Linked DNA regions of Homo sapiens: all the other regions are linked to region 3. The links come from fine-mapping of genetic effects on gene expression. A gene starts in region 3. Each other region holds a variant in brackets. All regions are shown on one strand. Distances are from middle to middle.

What was found. PIP is the estimated chance that this variant, and not a neighbour inherited with it, causes the effect.
Region 1: its variant is the best candidate, but not a certain one, in a credible set for the expression of FAM151B in whole blood (INTERVAL, PIP 0.79).
Region 2: its variant is the best candidate, but not a certain one, in a credible set for the expression of FAM151B in whole blood (TOPMed, PIP 0.54).

What each region holds. Positions count from the first base shown.
Region 1 is chr5:80,513,201-80,521,385 of GRCh38, forward strand. FAM151B (family with sequence similarity 151 member B) reads left to right here. Exons shown (of 6, transcript NM_205548.3): 3 at 404-569; 4 at 6,493-6,710. Among named protein-coding and RNA genes, the nearest start is that of FAM151B, 29 kb to the left of the region's middle. RefSeq lists an enhancer at 1-550. The variant C/T (reference allele first, on the strand shown) is at 4,746.
Region 2 is chr5:80,570,156-80,578,340 of GRCh38, forward strand. ANKRD34B (ankyrin repeat domain 34B) reads right to left here and starts at 125. Exons shown (of 5, transcript NM_001004441.3): 1 at 1-125. The variant G/A (reference allele first, on the strand shown) is at 3,922.
Region 3 is chr5:80,483,377-80,491,561 of GRCh38, forward strand. It overlaps FAM151B (family with sequence similarity 151 member B), which reads left to right and starts at 4,724. Exons shown (of 6, transcript NM_205548.3): 1 at 4,724-4,772. The coding sequence starts at 4,748. FAM151B-DT (FAM151B divergent transcript) reads right to left here and starts at 4,570. Exons shown (of 3, transcript NR_172938.1): 1 at 4,402-4,570; 2 at 2,090-2,185. ZFYVE16 (zinc finger FYVE-type containing 16) reads left to right here. Exons shown (of 19, transcript NM_001284236.3): 19 at 1-3. RefSeq lists enhancers at 4,328-4,829, 4,830-5,329 and a silencer at 4,994-5,288.

The DNA of each region.
Region 1 (8,185 bases), 30 kb after region 3:
TTTCAAACATGAGCAATGAATATCCATAATTTCTAATTTGAGGAGTGAGAAGATAAAAGTACGATTTTTATTCCCAGAAAGCTTCAGCAAATACTTATTAAGCCTTTCATTATGTATGTACTTTGCTGGTATTAGAAAGAAATTCAGAATTTGTATGTCAACAGCTTAAGATCTGTGTAACTTAGGGAAAGTCATTTAACTTCTTGACATCTGTTTGCTAATCTAAAAAATAGGGAGAATGTGTACGGACCTTGTATACTGCCTGGCATGGGATAATCGCTCACTGAGTGTTACTTTTCTTTCCTTTTTTTTTATCTTCCTCAAAAGGATACTGAACATGGTGCCTCCTGTAGTTCTGTGCCCTGTTTTCTTAGCATTAACTGAAGTTCTTTTATTTGGACAGGTACTGCTCACATGATAGAGGCTGATGTCCTTCTTCCAAGTGATGGATCAGAACACAGCCAGCCAATTATGGCCCATCCCCCTGAAACAAACAGTGATAATACTCTACAGGAGTGGCTGACTGAAGTTATGAAAAGCAATAAAGGCATCAAGCTGGATTTCAAAAGGTATTTGTATAAACACGTTCAATTTTCTGGGAAAAAAGTAATAGCTGTGCCTGACTACCTATTTTTTTTAATGTTATCCAAACTGAAAATGGAATTGTAGACTCTAATATATTTCAGGACTGAACCTAAATGAACCTAAGACCCACTGAGTTATTTACTAAAATTGTTTTTTGGAGACCCTTAAAGGCAAAAGTTAGATTAATTTTTATAAAGGAATTTATCATAAGTGACCATCGTGACAACAGAAAGGTAAATTAAAAATGCTACATATGTTAAAAAGTAACCCAGGAGAGAGAGAGCTGGGAGAAATTCATTGAGCTAGTTAATGCATACCCTATTTGATTTATGTTATTATATTTGTAAAGGGAATTATTTAGAATTCTCCAATAACCAAAGTGTTTCTTAAAAATAATGCTTGGAGGCAGCCGGGCACAGTGGCTTCAGCCTGTAATTCCAGCACTTTGGGAGGCTGAGGTGGGCGAATCAACCGAGGTCAGGAGTTTGAGACCAGCCTGACCAAAATGGCGAAACGCCACCTCTACTAAAAATACAAAAATTAGCCAAGCATGGTGGTGGGCGCCTGTAATCACAGCTACTGGGGAGGCTGAGGCAGGAGAATTGCTTGAACCTGGGAGGCGGAGGTTGCAGTGAGCCGAGATCACGCCATTGAATTCCAGCCTGGGCTACAAGAGTGAAACTCCCTCTCAAATAATAATAATAATAATAATAATAATAATAATAATAATAATAATATTTGGAGGCATTAATACTGAAGAGCAAGAGTAAGCTGTCATTTCCTTCACTGTGGCCATCACAGGAAATTTTACTTTTGTAGTATTTTAGCAGTGTAAAAATGATAAAGAAAGCCAGAAATATACAGCAACACTTCAGAAGCACACTGTAAAGCTTATGAAGGCAGCTGCTATTGAAATCTAGGATTGGCAGTAAGCCTACTTCATCTCTGAGTAATATTTTTAAATAGAATTATCTCAAGAAATTAATAAGGACTTGGAATCTTGTAGGATTCTTAAGATGACTCTAACCATTTGTTATGGGGCAAAATATACCAGTAAACCTTATTATACCGTTAGTGAATGAATAGATGTATAAAATCTTGATATACAGGAGTTTGGATTGACAGGGTCTTGTGAATTAAAGAACTATCTTAAGATCATAAACTTTTTTTTCGACCGGGCACGGTGGCTCACGCTTGTAATCCCAGCACTTTGGGAGGCCAAGGCGGGTGGATCACCTGAGGTTAGGAGTTTGAGACCAGCCTGGCCAACATGGTGAAACCCCTTCTCTACTAAAAATACAGAAAATTAGCCAGGCATGGTGGTGCGCACCTGTAATTCAGCTACTCGGGAGGCTGAGGCAGGAGAACCTCTTGAACCCAGGAGGTGGAGGTTGCAGTGAGTTGAGATTGCGCCACGGCACTCCAGCCTCGGCAACAAGAGCAAAACTCTGTCTCAAAAAAATAAATAAATAAATAAATAATAAAAAATCATAAACTTTTTGAGTTATCAATGGTTCAATTTCATTTTATTGACAAAGAAACTTAGTTCCAGAGAGGTTAAGTGATGTACCTGAGGGTAACAGGTAAGCTTTGACAGGTAAGCTACAACCAGATCCTAATTCTCCTGAAGCCAGTCCAGTGTTCTCTATATCATGAAATAAAGCATTTGATCTTTAGTGCTTGATGGCTTAAACTTTTAGATCTCCTTGATGTCACGTGCTCAGTTTTTCATGTTTACTATTGCCCCTTGAATTGTTTCCTGGGACATATTCTTTGGCTTCTCACCAGTCAGATCAGCTCATTCATTCTTAAGTGCTAGCAGCTAGCACAAAAGCGCTGAGCCTCTGAAACAAAGATTTTGCAAGTTTTTTTTAAAGTCATAACATATTTGAAGGGGATTCAATATAAACTAATAGGTATGTGAACACCTATTACATGTCAGACACTGTTGTAAAAGCATTGCATGTATTTTTCATTAAATTCTCGTAACAATCCTAAGAGGTAGGTTATTGCTGTTATTCTCATTTTCCGGATGAGGCAATGGAGATGGAGGGGCTGAGGAGCCCGCTTGTCACGTAGTTGTTAGTGGAACTAGAGAGCTGTCAGCCTGGCTGGAGAGTTCACACTTTTAACCAGAATGCTGCACTCACTCCCTTTGTAAGAGCAGCTGAATGACCTGTTAGTTAAGTTTTAGTAGTTCTTGTTTTGTGCTTCTAAGTTACTTTGTTTGGTACACAAATAAAAAGTATTATATTTTGGCTGGGCGCAGTGGCTCATGACTATAATCCCAGCACTTTGGTAGGCCAAGGTGGGCGAATCACCTGAGGTCAGGAGTTCTAGACCAGCCTGACCAACATGGAGAAACCCCGTTTCTACTAAAAATACAAAATTAGCTGGACGTGGTGGCACATGCCTGTAATCCCAGCTATTCGGAAGGCTGAGGCAGGAGAATCACTTGGACCCGGGAAGCGGAGGTTGCAGTGAGCCGAGATCATGCCATTGCACTCCAGCCTGGGCAACAAGAGTGAAACGCCATCTCAAAAAAAAAGTATTATATTTTTAAATTTTATCTGGAGTCTCAGCAAGCTCTTCAGCGTTTTAGCTAAGAATTATTTTCCCTTAAACAATGCAATTTTATATAGTTTGTTACAATTTTAAGTACGATATTTATTTTATCATTCCCAATTTTTAAATGAAATTAATAGGAAAACAGGGTATGATATTTAGAAGTTTGATTTACAAATAACTTTTTAGGAAAAAAATATATTCTATAATAACTAAGTTTATATTCTTTTCAGGAGACTTAAATAAATACCACCAAGGAGCAATTTTCAGTAGTAGTCTCACCAGGACTTTCCTCTTCGGATGATCATCTTGGTGAAGCTTTGGTACTTCCTTATGGAAACTTAGTACTAATATATGTAAGAATTGAGAATGTTGGCCACTGTATTTTAAATTAGAATCACATGGAATTTATAGATTAATTTAGAAGGATGTGTCATTTTATAATACATGCAATATTGAGTCTTCCAGGCTTGGTCTGTTATTTCTTGTAGTATACAGTAGTCCTCTGTTATCTGCAGTTTCAGTAACCTGCAGTACACCATGGTCTAAAAGTGTTAAATGGAAAATTTGAGAAATAAACAATAAGTTTTAAATTACACACCATTCTGAGCAGTGTGGTGAAATCTGGTACTTTCCTATTCCATCCCAGCTGGGGTGTGACTCATCCCTTCCCTTCGTCCAGCGTATCCACACCATATATGCTGCCCACCTGTTAGTCACTTAATAGCCGTCACAGTTATCAGATTGACAGATCACAAGAAGAAGGGTGAGTACGGTACAGTATGCTATTTTGAGAGAGAGAGAGAGACCACATTCACATAACTTTTATTATAGTATATTGCTATAATTGTTCTATTTTATTACTAGTTTATGTTGCTAATCTCTTACTGTGACTAATTTATAAATTACACTTTATCAGAGATAGGTATGTGTAGGGAAAAAAAACAGACTACATATAGGGTTGGGTGCTAGGTAGTTTCAGGCATCCCTTGGAGGTCTTGGAACATATTCCCTGCAGATAAGGTGGACTACTGTAGATTTTATTTTGTTGTTTAGGAAAGTTTGTTCTCAGTTCTTTTTTCTCCCACAAAATGTTACACCTTTTCTTCCAGAAGAACTTTAGAATTACTTCGTCAAGTTTTAGAAAATAAGAACTACAACAACAAAAAGTTTTTGGTTCTTTAGTGAGGTTTTAAATTTGTTTAACCGCAGATTTTAAGTTTCTGGTAAGGGAAAATATCATTATCCTTCGTCTACATTAGTGATAATTAAAATATTTACATATAAAATGGAATAAATGTACTAAATTCTTGCTTCACTGTGTTCTTTGTCATAGTTCCTTATGTTTAACTGCACAGTGCTTCGCATGTAGTAGGCACTTAGTAAACACTGGTGGAATTTCGATTTGTGGGAGAATACGCTGTTTGAAACTGGATATTGGCCAGGTGCGGTGGCTCATGCCTGTAATCCCAGCACTTTGGGAGGCCGAGGCAGGTGGATCACTTGAGGTCAGGAGTTCAAGACCAGCCTGGCCAACATGGTGAAACCCCATCTCTACTGAAAATACAAAAATTAGCTGGGTGTGGTGGCGCATG[C/T]CTATAGTCCCAGCTACTTGGGAGGCAGAGGCAGGAGAATGGCTTGAACCCGGGATGCAGAGGTTACGGTGAGCAGAGATCGCACCGTTGCACTCCAGCCTGGGTGACAGGGCGAAACTCCATCTCAAAGAAAAAAAAAAAAAAAAAAAGAAACTGGATATTATCAGATGAAGAATCAATCTTAAACCACTCACTCTATGTCAACTTACTAAATTGAGAAAGCCTAAAAGGCTCCCTCCTGAAATGTAAACTGGAAATTAGTATTTAACCCAGCTTCCATAAGACACCAGATTTCTTAAGAAATCAGAGTCCTTTTTGGAAAAAGAGGAGCTTGGCAGGAGGCATGCATGGATTAGTTCAAGGTTTTTCCTTACTCCACCCATGAAGAGCAGCACCTCATGGGGACTTGGCTGCTGCTATGGGACTGACAGACAAGCAAGCTTTGGAGTCACAGGTACAAGTTGCTTGCTACGAAAAATGGAATTTTGTAGGAAGTACAGTGTTGGATCTCAGAATTGTGGTTTTAACATGGTGTTGACACAGGGCAAGGCAGGGAGAATTTAAAAGAGACAAATGACAACATCTAAATTAATGTCTGCAGAGTCCAGCATTAAGGTTTATTAATCCACTAAAATCTAGGCCCTCCCCAATTCAGGGGCAGAAGAGTGAGAAGGAAGCGTACCACATGGCAGCAGAGGGAAAGGGGCTAGAAGCTAAGGGATAGAGCCTGGGTTCCTCTGGTTTTAGTACATAGTATCCTTGCTCACTGGTAAACATAACCCAATAAATAATGAGATTATTTAAATTTCTTCTCTTAGAGTAGGAGGCCCAAAAGGAGTGGAGACAAGAGAGGTAGAAGCATAGACAGAAGTACTGCCGTCTCTTAGGAAGAGAGAGGGAAATGTGAGGAGGGGTCGGTGAGTGTTCTCCCCTCCAGTATCCATCTCCAAAATTCATAGCCTCCCATTATGATATTCACTACAAGGTAATTTTCTTATAAATGAACATAGGCAAGTAAAAATTATGGAAGCTGATTAAAACCTTATTGTTTCAAAGTCTGTAGTTATCAGCTAGAATATCTGTAGGGAAGTAAAAAGATTGAAGTTGCTTTTTAAATTTGAACTAAAATATACGTATTTCTAATTTTCAGAAAAGGTTCTTACAATAAAAGAAGAAAAATGAAACAGAAACTTGAAGGAAATACTATAATTTTATATTTTACAGTCATTTTTAGAATTGTTTATGTATCCAAACTCACCCAAGAATACATAAGGGAAAGAAGCTACTTTTATTCTCCAGGGTCATGAGCCTGAATTAGAGATACAGGGCTTGGATCCACTTGGGTATTTCATAAATGTGAATTTACAGGTTATTAAGTGTATTTCATTTATCTTATTTATACATTCTGGAACGAGTGAATATTTGTGTCTTTTAAAAAACTGTTTTCACACCAAGTGATCCTAATATGGAGTTTTGAAACCTCTATTTTGTCCACAAGTAGTACCACTATTCATATATTTATAGACTCTTTAAGGTATATTCATGAATAATAAGCACAGTTCAACATTTAGAGATATGGCATATGTTAGCTTTTCCCTCTGGTGCTATGCGATCTTTGATTTTATTTAACCCAGACATTATTGTATTTTGATTATGAATTTGAGAACATTGAGACCACTAGTCTAAAAGAACTTCTTTTTACTTTACCTAAAGAATCTATCTCATTGACAACAAATTATGTTTTTAGTCTGGCAGTTGTAGAACCATCCATGATGCTCTTGGAAAATGTGAAGAGGCATCTGAAGCGTCCTGTATGGATTAATGCCGATATTCTTCCTGGTCCAAATGGAAATAGCAAAGTAATAGATGCAAAACCATTTTTAGACACCGTGATATCCTTCTTTCCAGACGTGACGTTTTCCCTGGGTTGGACAACAGGATGGCATCCTGAGAAAGTCAATGAAGGTAATAATTCTAATAATGTATTTCTTGGTCAAATTAAAATATCCTCCAGGTATAAAAATAACATCTTTAATACAAAGACCAAAACCCATTCTACAAAATCTAAGCCTGATGGAAAAAAAGGCCTGACCCTTCAGGTATGTGCAGACCCTTCCATCTGCTCTTTCAGATAGATGCCATGTTCACTGGTGACGCTGCAGATTTTAAGAGAGTTCACACATTTATAGTCATATAAGTAAAGCTTCTGTTAGCAATCTCTTTTTCTAATTTTTAAAAATATAATTTTCCAGATTTTAAAGGAAAGTGGAACACGTCCCTTCTTTTTATCAGGAAATTAGCTGCTAAACTAACATATTCACTTAAGATTTCTGTAAAATGTTCCTTTACTGACTGACCAATATTTTTTACAACTTGCTTTTGATAGAGTATAGAGTTATTTAAAATAGATATATTCTGGCCGGGCGTGGTGGCTCATGCCTGTAATCACCACACTTCGGGAGGCCAAGGTGGGCGGATCACCTGAAGTCAGGAGTTTGAGACCAGCCTGGCCAGCATGACGAAACCCCGTCTCTACTAAAAATACAAAAGTTAGCCAGGCATGGTAGTGTGTGCCTGTAGTCTCAGCTACTCGGGAGGCTGAGGCAGGAGAATCACTTGAACCCAGGAGGCGTAGGTTGCAGTGAGCCAAGATCGTGCCACTGTACTCCAGCCTGGGCAACAGAGTGAGACTCTGTCTCAAAAAAAAAAAAAAAGTGTGTGCATATATATATATGTGTGTGTATATATATATATATTTATTTATTATGTATATAGTTTATTTATATATAAAAATATATATTCTCTATATATACATAGATACTTTTTTTTCAAGCTATTTAGAAACAAGCAAGTGTGTTTTCCATGTGGTTTTTTTTTTTTTTAAATAGAGTCTTGCTCTGTTGCCCAGGCTGGAGTGCAGTGGTGTGATCTCAGCTTACTGCAACCTCCACCTCCCAGGTTCCCAGGTTCAAGTGATTCTCGTGCATCAACCTCTTGAATAGCTGGGATTACAGGCGCCACCACGCCCAGCTAATTTTTGTATTGTTTTTTAGTAGAGATGGGGTTTCACCATGTTGGCCAGGCTGGTCTCAAACTCCTGACCTCCAGTGATCCACCCACCTTGGCCTCCCAAAGTGCTGGGATTACAGGCATGAGCCACTGCACCTGGCCTTTTTTTTTTTTTTTTTTTTTTTTTAAAAAACAGGGTCTGGCTCTGTCACCCAGGCTGAGTGCAGTAGTACCATCATGGCTCACTGCACCTTCAACCTCCTGGGCTCAAGTGATCCTCCCACCTCAGCCTCCAGAGTAGCTGAGACCACAGGCATACACCATCACACACAGCTACTTTTTAAATTTTTTTGTAGAAGTGAAGTCTCACTAAGTTGCCCAGGCTGGTTTCAAACTCCTGGGCTCAAGCTATCCTCCCACCTTGGCCTCTC
Region 2 (8,185 bases), 87 kb after region 3:
GGGACGCGCTGTCGAGTTGGCGGCGGCGCTTTCAAACCTCTCTCCGGCACTGCCCGACCCTCTGTGCGGCCCTAGGGCGCCGTCTGAGCTGAGCTGTGGTCTTCGGCTCCTCGGCGCCTCGAATCGCAGATCTCGGTAGATGCCGCCCAGTCCCCGCCCTGCTTGCGGAAAGAGGCGGGCGACTGCCGCGAAGCGCTGGAGCTGGGACCCGGAGCGCACACCTCGCCAGACGCCCGGGCAGCGAGGCGCTTCCGCTGGGGGTGACGCGTCGGCTCCAGGCTCTGCGCAGGTGAGGGCGGCAAGGCTCCTCTGGACCCAGGGGGGCCAGCAGCTGCTGGAAGCTCCGCCTTCTGTCCCCGTAAGTCCCACCCCCGTCCCCCGCTTCGGCCACCGCGCTTCGGCCACGGCGACTTGGCCAACAACAGCGGCAGCAGGGTCTCCCCATTGAGGGAAGCACGCACCCCTACGTCACGGGCTTTGGCTCCTCCAGTCCGTATCCCTCCCCTCAGCTCACATCCACCCGCTGGTTCATGGGTCCATCTGTCCCCACCGGTCCTTCCACCCCTCCGCATCCCTGTACCCACTTCAGGTAAAGCCAGAGCCACACTTCAGGTTGGGGTGTTAGTGGGAACAACCGTTCTTATTTACGTCTTTAGGAATTTATAAGGTTATTATGCTATTATTAAAACATGAATAAACATATTAACAAAATTTCGAAAAATACATTTCATATGTTAAACTCTACTGAGAGATGAAAAGGAAATGAAGCAGAAGCAACTTTTTCTGTCGTTTTTAGTTTTTGGTTTTTTTGAGACGGAGTCTCATTCTGTCACCCAGGCTGGAGTGCAGTGGTGTGATCTCGGCTCACTGCAACCTCTGCCTCCTGGGTTCAACCGATTCTCATGAGCCAGCCTCTGGAGTAGCAGGGATGACAGGTGTGCACCATCACGCCTGGCCAATTTTTGTATTTTTAGTAGAGATGGGGTTTCACCATGTTGCCCAGGCTGGTCTCGAACTCCTGACCTCAAGTGATCCACCCACCTCGGCCTCCCAAAGTGCCGGGATTACAGGTGTGAGCCACAACGCCCGGCCAGAAGCAAAGTTTTTAACTCTTCATTTATCTTGGAGGGTCTGGTGGAGAAAGGCCATCACTATTTTTGTTATTCAGATAATGTCAATCAAAACTTGTTTATAGTTTTGAGTTCTCGGGAAAAGTAGATTTATCTCTGGTCAGGCTTCCTTTATTAAAGAAAAGATCTCTCCGAAATGAGGACCTAAAGGGTCCTCATTTAGTAAACATATGCAAAGCAATTGCACAGGGTGCTTTACCCCAAAGTTAGGCTCTAGGGAGTTTGAATCCTATATCTGGGCTGCCCTTTGCCTACAGCTGTTTGTTTGGAGGTTACCAGGAAGACTGAGCCAATTTGCATGAAGGCACGGGGCTCCTCCCCCTTACCACCTCCGACTGTTCTCTTAAAAAAATTTCATCAATGTGCAGTGTACCTATTAAAAGGCAAATATTTTGGCTGAGTGCTGTGGCTCATGCCTGTAATCCCAGCACTTTGGGAGGCCAAGGAGGGTGAATCACTTCCAGGTCAGGAGTTCAAGACCAGCCTGGCCAACGTGATGAAACCCCATCTCTACAAAAATACAAAAATTAGCCAGGTGTTGTGGTTTATGCCTGTAATCCCAGCTACTGGGGAGGCTTGGGCAGGAGAATCACTTGAACCCAGGAGGCAGCAACTGCAGTGAGCCGAGATAGTGCCACTGCACTCCAGCCTGGGCCACAGGGCCAGACTTCATCTCAAAAAAAAAGACACACATTTCACAAGTCCGATGATTTTGCACAAAATGAGCATCATCCAGATCAAGAAGCAGAACATTACCAGTACCCTCACAACACTCCCTCTTCAGATTTCTCATTGGAGGGAGTGGTGGCTTCAAACAGCATAGAGTAGTTTTGTTTCTTTTTGTACTTTATAGTGATTGAATCACTCTGTTGACTGGCCTCTTTCACTAATAGTATGATTAAGAGATGCATACTGTGTGTGGCTGTAGTCTGTTTATTCTTTTTGCTGTATAGTATTCCGTTTTGTGATTGTGCCTCAATTGCTTATTCATTTTACTACTGATAGACATTTGGGTAATTCTCAGGTTTGGGACATTACAAATAATGCTGCTATGAACATTAAAATAGATGTCTTTTGGTGACCATATATACTTATTTCTGTTGGGTACATACCTAGGAGTGGAATTGTGAGTCATGATGTAGGCATATGTTCAGCTTCTGGAGATGCCACCAAACAGCTTTTCAAAGCAGATGATCCAATTTTCACTTCTACTTTATTAGTTTTCTATTGCTGCTTGTTACCACAAACAAAATCACCACGAACTTATTGTGGCTTAAAGAACACAGATTTATCCTCTTACAGTTCGGGAGGTCAGAAGTCCAAGTTGAATTTTATGTGGTTAAAACCAGAGTCTCAGCAAGATTGCATTACTTTTGGGGGTTCCAGGGGACAATCTGTTTCCTTGCCCTTTCTAGCTTTTAGAGGCCATCTGCATTCTTTGGCTGGTGGCCCCTTCCTCCATCTTCAATATCTGTCTCTCCCTCTCTCTCCCTCCCTGCCCTCCTCTCCCCACTGCCACGCTTCTGTTGTTACATGTCTCTCTCTCCCTCTGCTTCCTTCTCTCCCTCTGACTCTCCTGCCTCACTCTGGAGGACCTTTGTGATGACACTGGACCCACTTGGATGATCTTCCATTTCAAAATCCTTCATTTAATCACAGCTGCAAAATTAATTTGGCCTGTAGGGTAACATATTCATAGATTCTAGAGATTAGGACATTAAACTCTATGGCGGTTCATTACTCAACCCACCACACCTATCAGCAGGATATTGGAACATGTTGCATGAATGGAGGATGGACTGAATAAACAGAGGATAATGAATTTACAATTTACATTGTATCCCAGATACAATTTACCTGTAGGATTTTTACTGTTGACCTGGGTGCTGTGCCAGGACTGGTGGGCAGGAGAGGAGGGCTGATGCTGGAACACCACTTCTAGCCACCACCAACCTGCTGGCACTACGTGATTTGTGCCTGGGGGCACCCATGCTGAGTGACATGTTAGAGAAGGCAGATCCTCCTTCGTGGGAGTTGGTAACAGCAGTTAAACAGTGGTGAACACATCACATTTTACAGTGGGAAAGGCCCTGTGGTCAGTGGACAGTGTCGCATCACATGCCACAATGGTGGAATTATGAGGACTGACTTCCACAGCAGGAGAGTTAAGGGGAGGTCTGGATTAGACTACAAAGCTCATCTGGTAACCTGGGCAGGCCAGTCCATGCCATCGTTGTAATCTGAATGTTAAAGGGAGATGATTTTAACATTCAAAGTCTGAGAATGAGAATTTCTAGATTATACCTACTTCTGATCTCAGTTTAGTCCAGCAACTACACCCCTGAAGGAGAGAGGACAGATGTTTTTATCCTCATTTTAGCAAAGGGACTGCCAGGGAGCAAAGCTCCATGATTCACCTAAGAAGCCTCAGGAGAGGAAACAGGAACAGAAGGAAGCTCCCAGCTCTTCCCGCTGTCCTTTGTGTGGCTCCACCTCCCTGGAGTGTAGATTCACTACGACCTGAGGTCATGGAAGCTGAGGACCCAGAACCGACCCAAGCCATTCAAACCAAATTGGATACATCCTACTTTGTGAGTGATAGACTGGGATTCTCTGGAATGTGAGACTCCCTGTCCTCATGGTTTTATGCCATCAAAAAATATATTTTAGAAACAAGTAGAAGTAGATGCTTGGGCCAGGCGTGGTGGCTCATGCCTGTAATCCCAGCACTTTGGGAGGCCAAAGTGGGTGGATCATCTGAAGTCGGGAGTTCGAGACCAGCCTGGCCAAC[G/A]TGGTGAAACCCCATCTCTATTAAAAAAGAAAAATACAAAAAATTAGCTGGGCATGGTGGCATGCACCTGTAATCCCAACTGCTTGGGAGACTGAGGCAGGAGAATTGCTTGAACCCAGGAGGCAGAGGTTGCAGTGAGCTGAGACTGCACCACTGCACTCCAGCCTGGGCAACAGAATGAGACTCCATCTCAAAGAAAAAAAAAAGTAGATGCATGTGTTTGATAAACATTTTCATCAGAAACCCCTCCATCTACTTTCTGTCTTCTAGAAATCAGCTGAAAATTCTAGTCTACTGATGAAATCACCCCAGTTCTCTTCACAATTGTGGTTTATACTATTTTACAATTCACTTACTGCCAATTTAATTTAGATCCAGCCTTTAGTGTAACCATTACCCAAAACATGTACATTGCACCTATTGAGTAATTTCTCACCCCTCACCTGGACAGAGAAACGTGTGGTTAGTCTGACATCTTGAATTTAAAATCCCATGGTTGAGCTAAGTAATGTGTAGACATGGACATAGAGTATAGAATAATAGACTTGGAAGACTTAGAAGAGTATGAGGGTATGGGAGAGGGGTGAGGAATGAGAAATTACTCAGTGGGTGCAATGTACATTTTTGGGGTAATAGTTACACTAGAGGCTTAGACTTCACCACTACCCGGCATTTCCATGTAACAGAACTGCACTTGCGCCCTTAAATTTATACAATTTTTTTTAAAGTTCCATGGTTATCAGTATCGTAGTTATCATCATTTCATTAATATTTTATTAAAGAAAACAGAATTCTAAGCTTGCAGTGGAGACAGCCTAAAACCATCCAGCCGACAATCCAGAAGCCCTAAAATGCTCAGAAATTGGTAGCATTATTATCTTAGAACTAGGGGTAAAAAGGCAACTAAAATAAGAACTGATTAAAATTCTGTTTTTCCCAAGGTGGGCATCATACTTAATGCTGAAAGACTGAAAGCTTTCTCCCTAAGATTAGGAACAAGACAGGGATTTCCACTCTCACTACTTCTATTCAACTTTCTAACCACCAGGGCAATTAGGTAAGAAGATGAAATAAAAGGGATTCAGATTGGAAAGAAAGAAATAAAACTATATCTACTTGCAGAAGATATGATCTTGTGTTCAGAAAATCCCAAGATTCTATATACAATTAGAACTAATAAATGAGTTCAGCAAGGTTGCAAGACACAAGATCAATATACAAAAAAACCCAATTATACTCCTATATGGTAACAATAAATGATATGAAATGTAATTCTAAAAACAATTTTATTTACAATAGCATCCAAAAGAATACAACACTTTGAAAGAAATTTAACAAAAGAAGGGGAAAACATATTTTGGAAACAAAATAATTGCTCAAAGACATTAAAGAAGTTATGTCAAAGAAGTCAAAGACATTAAATAAATGGAAAGACATCCCATATACATGGATCAGAAGATTCAATGTTATTAAGATGGCAATACTCCTCACATTGATCTACAGATACAGCACAATTCTTATCAAAATCCCAGCTGGTTTTTTGGAGGACTCATATTTCCTGATATCAAAACTTACTTACAAAGCCATGTTAATCAAGACAGTGTGATACTGACATGAGGACAAAAAGATAGATCAATGGAATAGAATGCAGGGTCCAGACATAAACCTTATATTTATGGTCAACAGATTTTCAACATAGGTGCTAAGACAATTCAATGAGGGAAAGAACACTCTTCAAAAAAATGGGGTTGGGACAACTGGATATCCATGTGCAAAAGAATTTTAAACCTCTACCTCATTCCATATACAAAAATTAACTCAAAAGGATTAAAGACCTTAATGTAAGAGATAAAACTATAAAACTCTTAGAAGATAACATAGGCATAAATCTTCTTGACCATGGATTAGCCAATGGTTTCCTAGATATAACACCCAAAGTAAAAGCAATAACATAAAAAATAGATACTTGGGCTAAATGAAAATGAAAAACTTTTGTGCTTCAAAGGACACCAAGAAGAAAATGGAGAGACAACAAAATGGGAGAAGACTTTTATAAATCATATATCTGATAAGGGGCTTGTGTTAAAATGGGCAAAGGATCTGAGTAGACATTTCTCCAGGGAAGGTATATAAATGGTCAATAAGCACAAGAAAAGATGCTCAGCCGGGCACAGTGGCTCACACATGTAATCCCAGCACTTTGAGAGGCCGAGGTGGGCAGATCACTTGAGCTCAGAAGTTTGAGACAAGGCTGGGCAACACGGCAAAACCCTGTCTCTACAAAAAATACAAAAATTAGTCAGGTGTCGTGGTGTGCACCTGTAGTCCCAGCTACTCAGAAGGCTGAGGTGGGAGGATTGCTTGAACCCAGGAGGTGGAGGTTGCAGTGACCGGAGATCGTGCCACTACACTCTAGCCTGGGCGATAGAGCCAGACCTTGTCTCAAAAAAAAAAAAAAAAATGCTCAGGATTAGTCATTTAGGGAAAGGCAAGTCAAAACTACAAAGAGATATCACTTCACACCAACTAGGATGGCTATAATAAAAAAACAGACAATAACGTATGTTGATGAGCATGTGGAGAAATTAAAACACTCATAAATTGCTGATGGGAAAGTAAAATGGTGCAGGTGCTTTGAAAAATATTTTGGTTTAAGCCTCAAAGGCTTAAACAGAGAGTTACCATATGACTCAGAGGTTCTGCTCCTAGCTATACCCCAAATAAATGAAGCTATATGTACACACACAAAATTGCACATCAATGTTCATAGTCCAAAAAAGGAAACCTAAATGTCCATCAGCTGATGAATGAACAAATGAAATGTGATATATTAAGACAACGTCATATTATGTGGCAACAAAAGGAAATGAAGTCCTTATACATACTACAACAAGGATAAACTTTGAAAAACATTATGTTAAGGCCGTACATGGTGGCTCATGCCTGTAATCCCAGCACTTTGGGAGGCCGAGGTGGGTGGACCACCTGAGGTCAGGAGTTCAAGACCAGCCTGGCCAACATGGCAAAACCCTGTCTCTACAAAAAATACAAAAATTAGCCGGTTGTGGTGGTGGACGCCTGTAATCCCAGCTACTTGGGAGGCTGAGGCAGGAGAATTGCTTGAACCCGGGAGGCAGAGGTTGCAGTGAGCCGAGATCGCGCCATTGCACTCCACACTGGGTGACGAGCAAAACTCCGTCTCAAAAAAAAAGAAAGAAAAAGTGAAAACATTATGTTAAGGGAAAGAAACCAGTCACAAAAGAACACACACAATCACATTATCCAATATATATGAAATGTCCAGGATAGGCAAATCCATAAACTAAAAGCAGATTGGTGGTTGCCTAGGGCTGAGGAGGGGACATTTGGGAGGAGGGGAAAGTTGGGACTAGCTGCTAATTGGTATAGGGTTTCTTTTGGGCGTGAAGAAATGTTTGAAATTTATTGTGGTGATAGTTATACGACTGTGAATAAGCTAAAGCCCCTGAATTGAACACTTTAAATGGATGATAACATGGTATCTGAGATGCATTTGAATAAAGTTGTCACACATTTTTTAAAGTCTGTTTGAGAAGCAGTGATGTTCCCACTTCCTCTCCCCTACTCCTCTCAGTAGTGTGACTGCCCCGTGCCATCCCAGCAGAAAATGGCAGTTTTTTCCTCTGGAGAGGAAAACGGAAGGTCTCTGAGGACACCAGGTAGAGTCGAGGTGAAGGTACCATCCTGACTACGTGGGAATGTCATGAATGCTGGGGATGGGATTTCCCCCGCCCTCGTGCTCCATTCCCAGATAGCTTGAAGCCAGACCTGTCAGGGACTGTCTCCAAATGGTGCTCAGATTAGCTTCCAGTGAAGTTTCCTGTCCAAATGTCTCAGCCACATGCTCAGAGCTGCCAAACATCTTTTTAGTCCCTCACTCTCAAATATGAGCTGACCATCAAATATGTGACATTTGAGGGAAGCTTTTAATGGGAAAGATTAAAACTAAACTAAATAAATAAACAGAAGTATCAAAATCTGAAGGAAACAGACAATGTAAGGAGAAAAAAATAAAAAACTATCATTCAATATCATAGGTTCAATATTTCAACCACATAATAAGAACAGGATTTTTTCTTCTTTTTTTGGGGGGGTGGGGGGGAGGATGGAGTCTCACTCTGTCACCCAGGCTGGAGTGCAGTGGCGCGATCTCAGCTCACTGCAACCTCCGCTTCCCGGGTTCAAGCAATTCTCCTGCCTCAGCCTCCTGAGTAGCTGGGATTAC
Region 3 (8,185 bases):
TCATCTTTTGGGATTTTCAATGCATATAGATGTAATACAGATGAAAACTGCATACTAACCAAGGGGACAGTGACAGAACCTATATGGTAAGTTTTCTAAATTTCACTTAAAGTGGTAAAACATTATAGTAGGTTACAAAAAGTTTGGTATGTAATGATCATCTCTAGAGCAACCATTTTAAAAAACTATGCAAGGAGATATGTTTAAAAAGCCGACATATAAAGTGGAATTTTAAATAATTCAAAATAAAGCCAGCAAGGAAAACAAGTGTAAAAGAAATAAGGGATCAACAAGAAAAATTAATGCTAAAATGGTAGACCTAAATCCAGCTGTATCAAAAATTACACTAGGCCAGGTGTGGTGGCTAATGCCCATAATCCCAACACTTTAGGAGGCTGAAGCAGGAAGATCACTTGAGGCCAGGAGTTCAAGATCAGACTGGGCAATGTAGTGAGGCCCCGTATCTACATAAAACTTAAAAGAATTAGCCAACCATGGTAGTGCATGCCTATAGTCCTGGCTACTCAGGAGGCTGAGGTGGGAGATCATTTGAGCCCAGTAGTTTGAGGCTGCAGTGAGCTGTGATCATACCGCTGTACTCCAGCCTGGGCCACTGAGCAAGACCCTGTCCCTAAAAATAAAAATAAATAACAATTACATTAAATGTAAATGGTCTAAATATGGCAATTGATTTTTTTTTTTTTTTTTGGATCAAGTCTCATTTATTCTGTCACCCAGGCTGGAGTGCAGTGGCACAATCCCGGCTCACTGTAACCTCCACCTCCCAGGTTCAAGTGATTCTCCTGCTTCAGCCTCCTGAGTAGCTGGGATTACAGGCATGTCCACATCTGGCTAATTTTTTCTTTGTTTTTATTAGAGATGGAGTTTCACCATTTTGTCCAGGATAGTCTTGAACTCCTGTCCTCAACTGATCTGCCTGTCTTGGCCTCCCAAAGGACTGGAATTACAGGCATGAGCCACCATGCCTGGCCAGATGGATTTTTTTAAAACCTAATTTATATGCTATCTATACAAGCCACTTATGATACAATGGTACATGCAGGTTAAAAAGTAAAAGGATGGAAAAAGATATTCCATGCAAACACTAAAAAGAAGAAGAAAAGGACAAAGCTGGAGTGGTTATTTTGCTATCAGACAAAGCAAACTTCAGAACAAGGAATATTACCCTGTAATTTATTTTTAAATTTATTTATTTATTTATTTATTTATGAGACAGGGTCTCATTGTATTGCCCAGGCCTAGGGTGCAGTGGCTATTCACAGGCACAGTCATGGCACACTACAGCCTTGAACTTAGGCTCTTAACCCATCCTCCTGCCTCAGCCTCCTGGGTAGCTGAGCCTACAAGTGCGTGCCACTGCACCCAGTTCCCCTGTGATTTATTATTGCATTTCATAGACTAGATACCAAGTTCAGAGAGAGAGTAATCTGTCCAAAGTCACACAGCTAGAAACTAAATTGGAATTTGAGGGAAAACTTTCTAGCTATTAGGACTCTGAAAATGAGGTAAGCTGTATTCATGCAGTGCTTTGTTTTGATTTTGAGACAGAGTCTCACTCTGCGGCCCAGGTGGAATGCAGTGGTGTGATCATGGCTCACTGCAGCCTTGAGTTCCTGGGCTCAAGCAATCCTCCCACCTTAGCCTCCTGATTAGCTGATACTACAGGCACATGCCGACACACCTGGCTTGTTTTTTATTTTTTCGTAGAGATGGGTCTCACTATGTTGTCCAGGCTGGTCTCAAAGTCCTGGTCTCCTCCTGCCTCAGCCTCCCAAAGTACTGGGATTACATGTGTGAGCCACCATGCCTGGCCTTTATTCATGTTTAGATGTCACCAAAAGCAGCCCCAGACTCAAGTTGGGGCCTGTGTCTCACATTCTAATCGTTATATTCTTTCCCCAGTGCAGCATGTACCCTTAACTTACAAAACCTTTTTTGTGCCAAAAAAGTAATTAGACTTATTTTTACCATAAAATTTCCAAACACTCAGAAGTAAAGGAAATAGTAGGATGAAAATCTATATACCCAGCCTACAACAATCCTCTGAGTCAACACTATCAAGACTTACCTCTTTTGCTTCATCCATCCCTTAATTTCTTTGCTGGAGCATTTTAAAGCAAATATCAGACATACCCTTTCACGCCTCACACTTCAACATGCGGCTCTAAAAATAAGGACAGTGAAGAGGAATTTTGAGTCAGTTATTGTAAAATATATGAAAATATTGTAATATTGTGACCAATATGTCATAAAAACTTAGCAAACTGATGCAGGAACAGAAACCAAATACTGCATGCTGTTACTTATAAGTGGGAGCTAAATGATGAGACACATGGACACAGAGTGGGGAACAACACACTGGGACTTTTGGAGGGTGGAGGGTGGGAGGAGGGAGAGCAGGAGAAACAATGAATGGGTACTAGGATTAATACCTGGGTGATGAAACAACCTGTACAACAAACCCCTATGATACAGTTTACCTGTGTAACAAACCTGCACTTGGACCCCTGAAGTTAAAAATTTTAAAAATGAAAAAAAAAAAAAGCCGGGCACAGTGGCTCACGCCTGTAATCCCAGCACTTTGGGAGGCTGAGGCGGGTGGATCACTTGAGGTCAGAAGTTCGAGACCAGCCTGGCCAACATGGTGAAATCCTGTCTCTACTAAAAATACAAAAATTAGCCAGGCGTGGTGGTGCGTGCTTGTAATCCCAGCTACTCAGGAGGCTGAGGCAGGAGAATCGCTTGAACCCGGGAGGTGGAGGTTGCAGTGAGCCGAGATCGTGCCACTGCACTCCAGCCTGGGGGAACAGAGTGAGACTTCATCTAAAAAAAAAGAAAAACAAGTTTTTTAAAAAAGACCTGTACTGCAATCAATGCCATCAAGAAAGTGAAAAGACAATCTGCACAACGGGAGAAAATATTGCAAATATTTGCAAATTACCTGTTAAGGGACTTGTATTGAGACTATATAAAGAATTCTCACAATTGAAATGAGCACAGGATTTGAGAAGACATTTCTCCAAAGGAAATATATAAATGACCGATAGCACCTGAAAATATGCTCAATATTATTAGTAGGGAACTACAAATCAAGATAATGAGGTAGTACTTCATATCTACTAGGATGGCTATAATTTAAAAAACATAACAACAAGTACTGACTGGTAAGGATGTGGGGAAATTGGAATCTTCATACATTGCTGGTGGGAATGAAAGATGGTACAGCTGATTTGCAAAACTGGCAGTTCCTCACACAGTTAAACAGTTACTATATGAACAAGTAGTTCCACTCCTAGGTATGTACACAGATATGCACACAGGAATGTATTCATATACGTCCACACAAAACTTGTCCATGAATGTTCACAGCAGCAGCATTCATAAAAGACAAAATGTAGAAACAACCCGAATGTCCTTCAGCTGTTGAATGGACACACATAAAATGTGGTATTTACAAACTGGAATTTATTCCAGCATAAGAAGGAAGGAAGTACTGATACATGCTAAAACATGGGTGAATTTTGAAAACATGCTAAGTGAAAGAAGCCAGTTACAAAGATCATACATACAGTCTGTGATTCTATTTACATGAAATTCCAGAATAGGCAAATTCATGAGACAGAAAGTAGATGAGTTGTTGCCTGGGGGTAGGAAGGGGGTAAATGGAGAGTGATTGCTTTGGAGTGATGAAAAATATTTTATCTGAAAGGCTGGGCAAGAATAACTCCCCTTTGTATTACGTGTCAGGTGATGTTAGTTATCCTAACTCTACCACTGGCAGATTGAGTTTTTTGGTCACAGAAGCTGAAAATGGCAGAGCTTTGTTGTTAATTCTGATCACTAGTTTGGCTTCAAAAAGTAATGAGTTAAGGAGGGCTAGAAAGACAGTGGATGGGAGGACCCAGTTGCTGAGAGCGTTTTCTGAGTGAACACTGGTAGAGAGACAGAAGGGGAGAGAAAACTTCAAGTTATCAGCTCGGTAACTTTGTACAAAAACTTATTTATTTATTTATTTATTTATTTGACAGTCTAGCTCTATCGCACAGACCGGAGCGCAGTGGAGCGATCTCGGCTCTCTGCAACCTCCACCTCTCCGGTTCAAGCCATTCTTGTGCCTCAGCCTCCCGAGTAGCTGGGATTACAGGCGCGCGCCACCACGCCAGGATAATTTTTTAAATTTTCAGTAAGGACGGGTTTTAACCATGTTGGCCAGGATGGTCTCGAATTCCTGACCTCAAGTGATCCGCCCACCTCGACCTCCCAAAGTGCTGGGAGTACAGGCCTGAGCCACCGTGCCCGGCCAGAAACACTGATTTTTATCAGTAATGATTCCACACCCTTTTAGGATATTACTAACATTTAAAAGAAAATATACCCAACTGTTGAAATTCGTGCTCCACTCCAGCAACTGCTTTCAATCGGAGTTCCATCCTCCGCCGCAGTATGCCCTAACGCAGCGTTATCTTCAGAGCTACCACCAGCTTCCGAAACCTTTCGGAGGAGCGCTTCGCCACCACCTGCACGGCGAAGCGGCGCGTAAACGAACCTCGAACGCCAGCCTTTGCGCCTGCGTGCCGCGGCTCCGTTTGGTTCCGCTTCGCTGGCGCCCGCCGGGCTCTTCCCCCGCCGAGGCCTGTGGTTTGTGGAGTCGAATTTCCCTGCCACCAGTGCCCGGTTAGCAGGGGCGCCAGCCTGGGCGCCTGCGCGGACGGCGGGCGTCGTCACCATGGCAGCATCCGCTGGAGGCCCAGGTAAGCGCCGAGCGCGCGGCCTCTGCCTGGAGGTGGGGCGCTTTGAGAGGCTCCGCCGGCCGTACCCTCCCTTTGCGGGCTCCCGCGGTCTTCCTTGCTAGGGACCTGGGAGCGCGCCGCGCAGAACCGGGCGGCTGGGCTTGGAGCCCGCTCTGCACTCGGGGCGCGCCCGCGATCGCCTGGCAAGGACCTTGGTTTGCCGGGTGGGCTCTAAGGGACAGGCGTTAGGGGAGGTCGAGAATGGCAGGGTCAGTGTCTTTTGAGGTCTGGGTTGGAAAGAAAGGAATGTGACGTTTCCCTAATCCTTAATTTCAGCCGACCGTATGGGGGCGGTCTGGGTCAGTAGGTTCCTCTTTGAAAGCTGGGGGAGGTTTGGGAATGCGGACTGGGCCGGGCCCGGCATAGTCCCGCTGCTGAGCGCGCTGCCTGGAAAGCTGGCAGAGTGTGCGGCTCGCTTGATTCCCCTTGGAATCAGGTGCTTCAACTCGCGGGACAGCAGTTCCGCTCTTGAAGGTTACAGTATCTTTTCTGTAAACTTAAGTAGTGGCATGAGACAACGTCAGTGACGCGTTCTTTCTTCAGTTTAGATTTTTTTCCCTAATTGTAAAAATAATACACGCTTTCACCATTCTGACTAGCAGGCTGTATAAATACAGGTTCTCTTCTGAATCGATGCACAGTTTACAGAATCTTGGAATAAAATGTGTGTGTAAGCGAAAAATGTCCAGGTCCTGATAAATGCCATTATAGAACATTTATAAAGTATATTAGTATAGGGAAATAGGAAAAAAAAATCCCCCAAATGCTGATACCCACAGGCACCACTACTAACTTTTTGGTATTTTCTAACAACCCTGACTCTTAAAAATAGAGTTAAGGTCATGGTAAACATAATTTTTAAAATCCTGCATCTTATACTATCCCATGTCACCAAGGTTTTTATAAACATAATTTTGAATGACTGAAGTGTTTTATACAATTATATTGTATACAATTATATTGTAATTAACCAGTCTCCTAATGTTGAACGTTAATCAGTCGTTTCCTGTTTTGTTTTGTTTTGTTAGAATTCATTCTGTAATGAACATTTTTGCATTGTTCTTCCTCAGTTATGTTTTTGGTTTGTTTTTATCCTGGACACGATTCTTGTAACTGAAATTACTGGATCAAAGGATGTGAACTTTTTTCTCTCTCTCTTTTTTAAGATCTGTGCTAAACCTCCGTAGAACATTTTTTCAGACCAGAGTTTTCCTTTTTTAACCCTTGTGCTCTTCTCAGTATAAATCCTTTTAATGCCTAGTTTTCCTAAGAATCCAAACAAATCTGGGACAAAGCTCACACTCAAGACTTACACCATTCTCACTCACAGGCTGTATAAATCCAGATTCTCTTCTGAATCGATGCAAGGTTTACAAAATCTTGGAATAAAATGTGTGCACAAGTGAAAAATGTCCAATTGCTGACAAATGCCATTTTTTAAAAAACAAATTTTTGGGCCGGGCGCGGTGACTCACGCCCGTAATCCCAGCACTTTGGGAGGCCGAGGTGGGCGGATCACGAGGTCAGGAGATCAAGACCATCCTGGCTAACACAGTGAAACCTCGTCTCTACTAAAAATCCAAAATAATTAGCCGGGCGTGGTGGCGGCGCCTGTAGTCTCAACTACTAAGGAGGCTGAGGCAGCAGAATGGCGTGAACCCGGGAGGCGGAGCTTGCGGTGAGCCAAGATTGCGCCACTGCACTCCAGCCTGAGCAACAGAGAGAAACTGTCTCAAAACAAAAACAAAAACAAAAATTTCTTCTCATTACCGAGTTATTGATAAAACTAATTCTTAACCAGATTCTTCCGTTATATGTCATTTTTCCCCCTTACACACACACACACACACACACACACACACACATTCTCAACATAAAAAAGTTCAAAAGGCACAATAGGATGTATAGTGAAAAGTTCCGTCCTGGCCGGGCGTGGTGGTTTACGCCTGTAATCTGAACACTTTGAAAGGCAGGAGGATCGCTTGAGCCCTGGAGTTTGGATCAGCCTGGGCAACACAGGGAGGCCTTATCTCTCCAAAAGAAAACAAATAAATTAGCCAGGTATGGTGGTGGCACATACCTGTGGACCCAGCCACTCAGGAGGAGACTGAGGCGGGAGAATCGCTTAAGCCGGAGAGGCTGCAGTGAACCAAGAACATGCCAGCCTGGGCAACAGAGCCAGAGCCTTAAAAAAATTAATAAATTCTTCAAAATCCTTACTGATGTACAATTTGCATACTATTAATATACAACTTATTTAAAGAGTATAATTCAGTGGTTTTAGCTTATTTATTTAATTTTAGCTTATTCACAGACTTGTGCAACAATTACCACAATTAATTTTAAAACATCTTCACCTTACAAAAAGAAACACTTCCCCATCCCCCACCCTTTAACATCCACAACTGCTATTCTTCTATTTTCTGTCTCTATGAATTTGCCTGTTCTGGATGTTTCATATAAATGGAATCATCCAATATAGACCCTCTTATGTCTAGCTTCTTCCACTTATCATAGTGTTTTCAAGATTCATCCATCTTGTAGCATGTTTCAATACTTCATTCCTTTTTATGGCCAAAAAAGGAATTGCATGAAACACCACATTTTGTTTATCCACTCATTAGTTGATGGACATTTGAGTTGTTTCCATCTTTTGGGTATAGTGAATAATGCTACTGTGAACATTTGTGTACAAGTTTTTGTGTGGACATATGGTACATTGTCTTTAATGGTAAGTCAATTCTGGTAGTCACTTTTGGAAACTGGAAGGAACCTTAATGATTGTCTAGTCCAGGGGTCAGCAAATAGCAAACTTTCTTTTTTAATTTTATTTTTAATTGACAAATAATAATTGCATATTTGCGAGGTACAATGTGATGTTATGATACATGTATACATGGTAGAATGATTAAGTCAGGCTAATTAATATATCCATCACCTCACATACTTATCATTTCTTTGTAATGAGAACATTTAAAATCTACTCATTTAAGAAGTTCAAAATATATAATACACTATTATTATTATTATTATTATTATTATCATTGAGACAGGGTCTCGCTCTGTCACCCAGGCTGGAGTGCAGTGGTGCAATCATGGCTCACTGCAGCCTTGACCTCCTGGGCTCAAGTGATCCTCCTGCCTCAGCCTCCTGAATAGCAGGGACTACAGGCACACACCACCATGCCTGGGTTATTATTATTGTTAGTTTTAGTGGTAGAGACAAGGTCTTGCTTCATTGCCCAGGCTGGTCTCGAACTACTGAGCTTAAGCAGTCCTTCCGCCTCAGCCTCCCAAAGTGCTGGAGTTACAGTTGTGAGCCAGCATGCCTGGAATTACTAACTATAGTCACCATTGCTGTGCAATAGATCTTG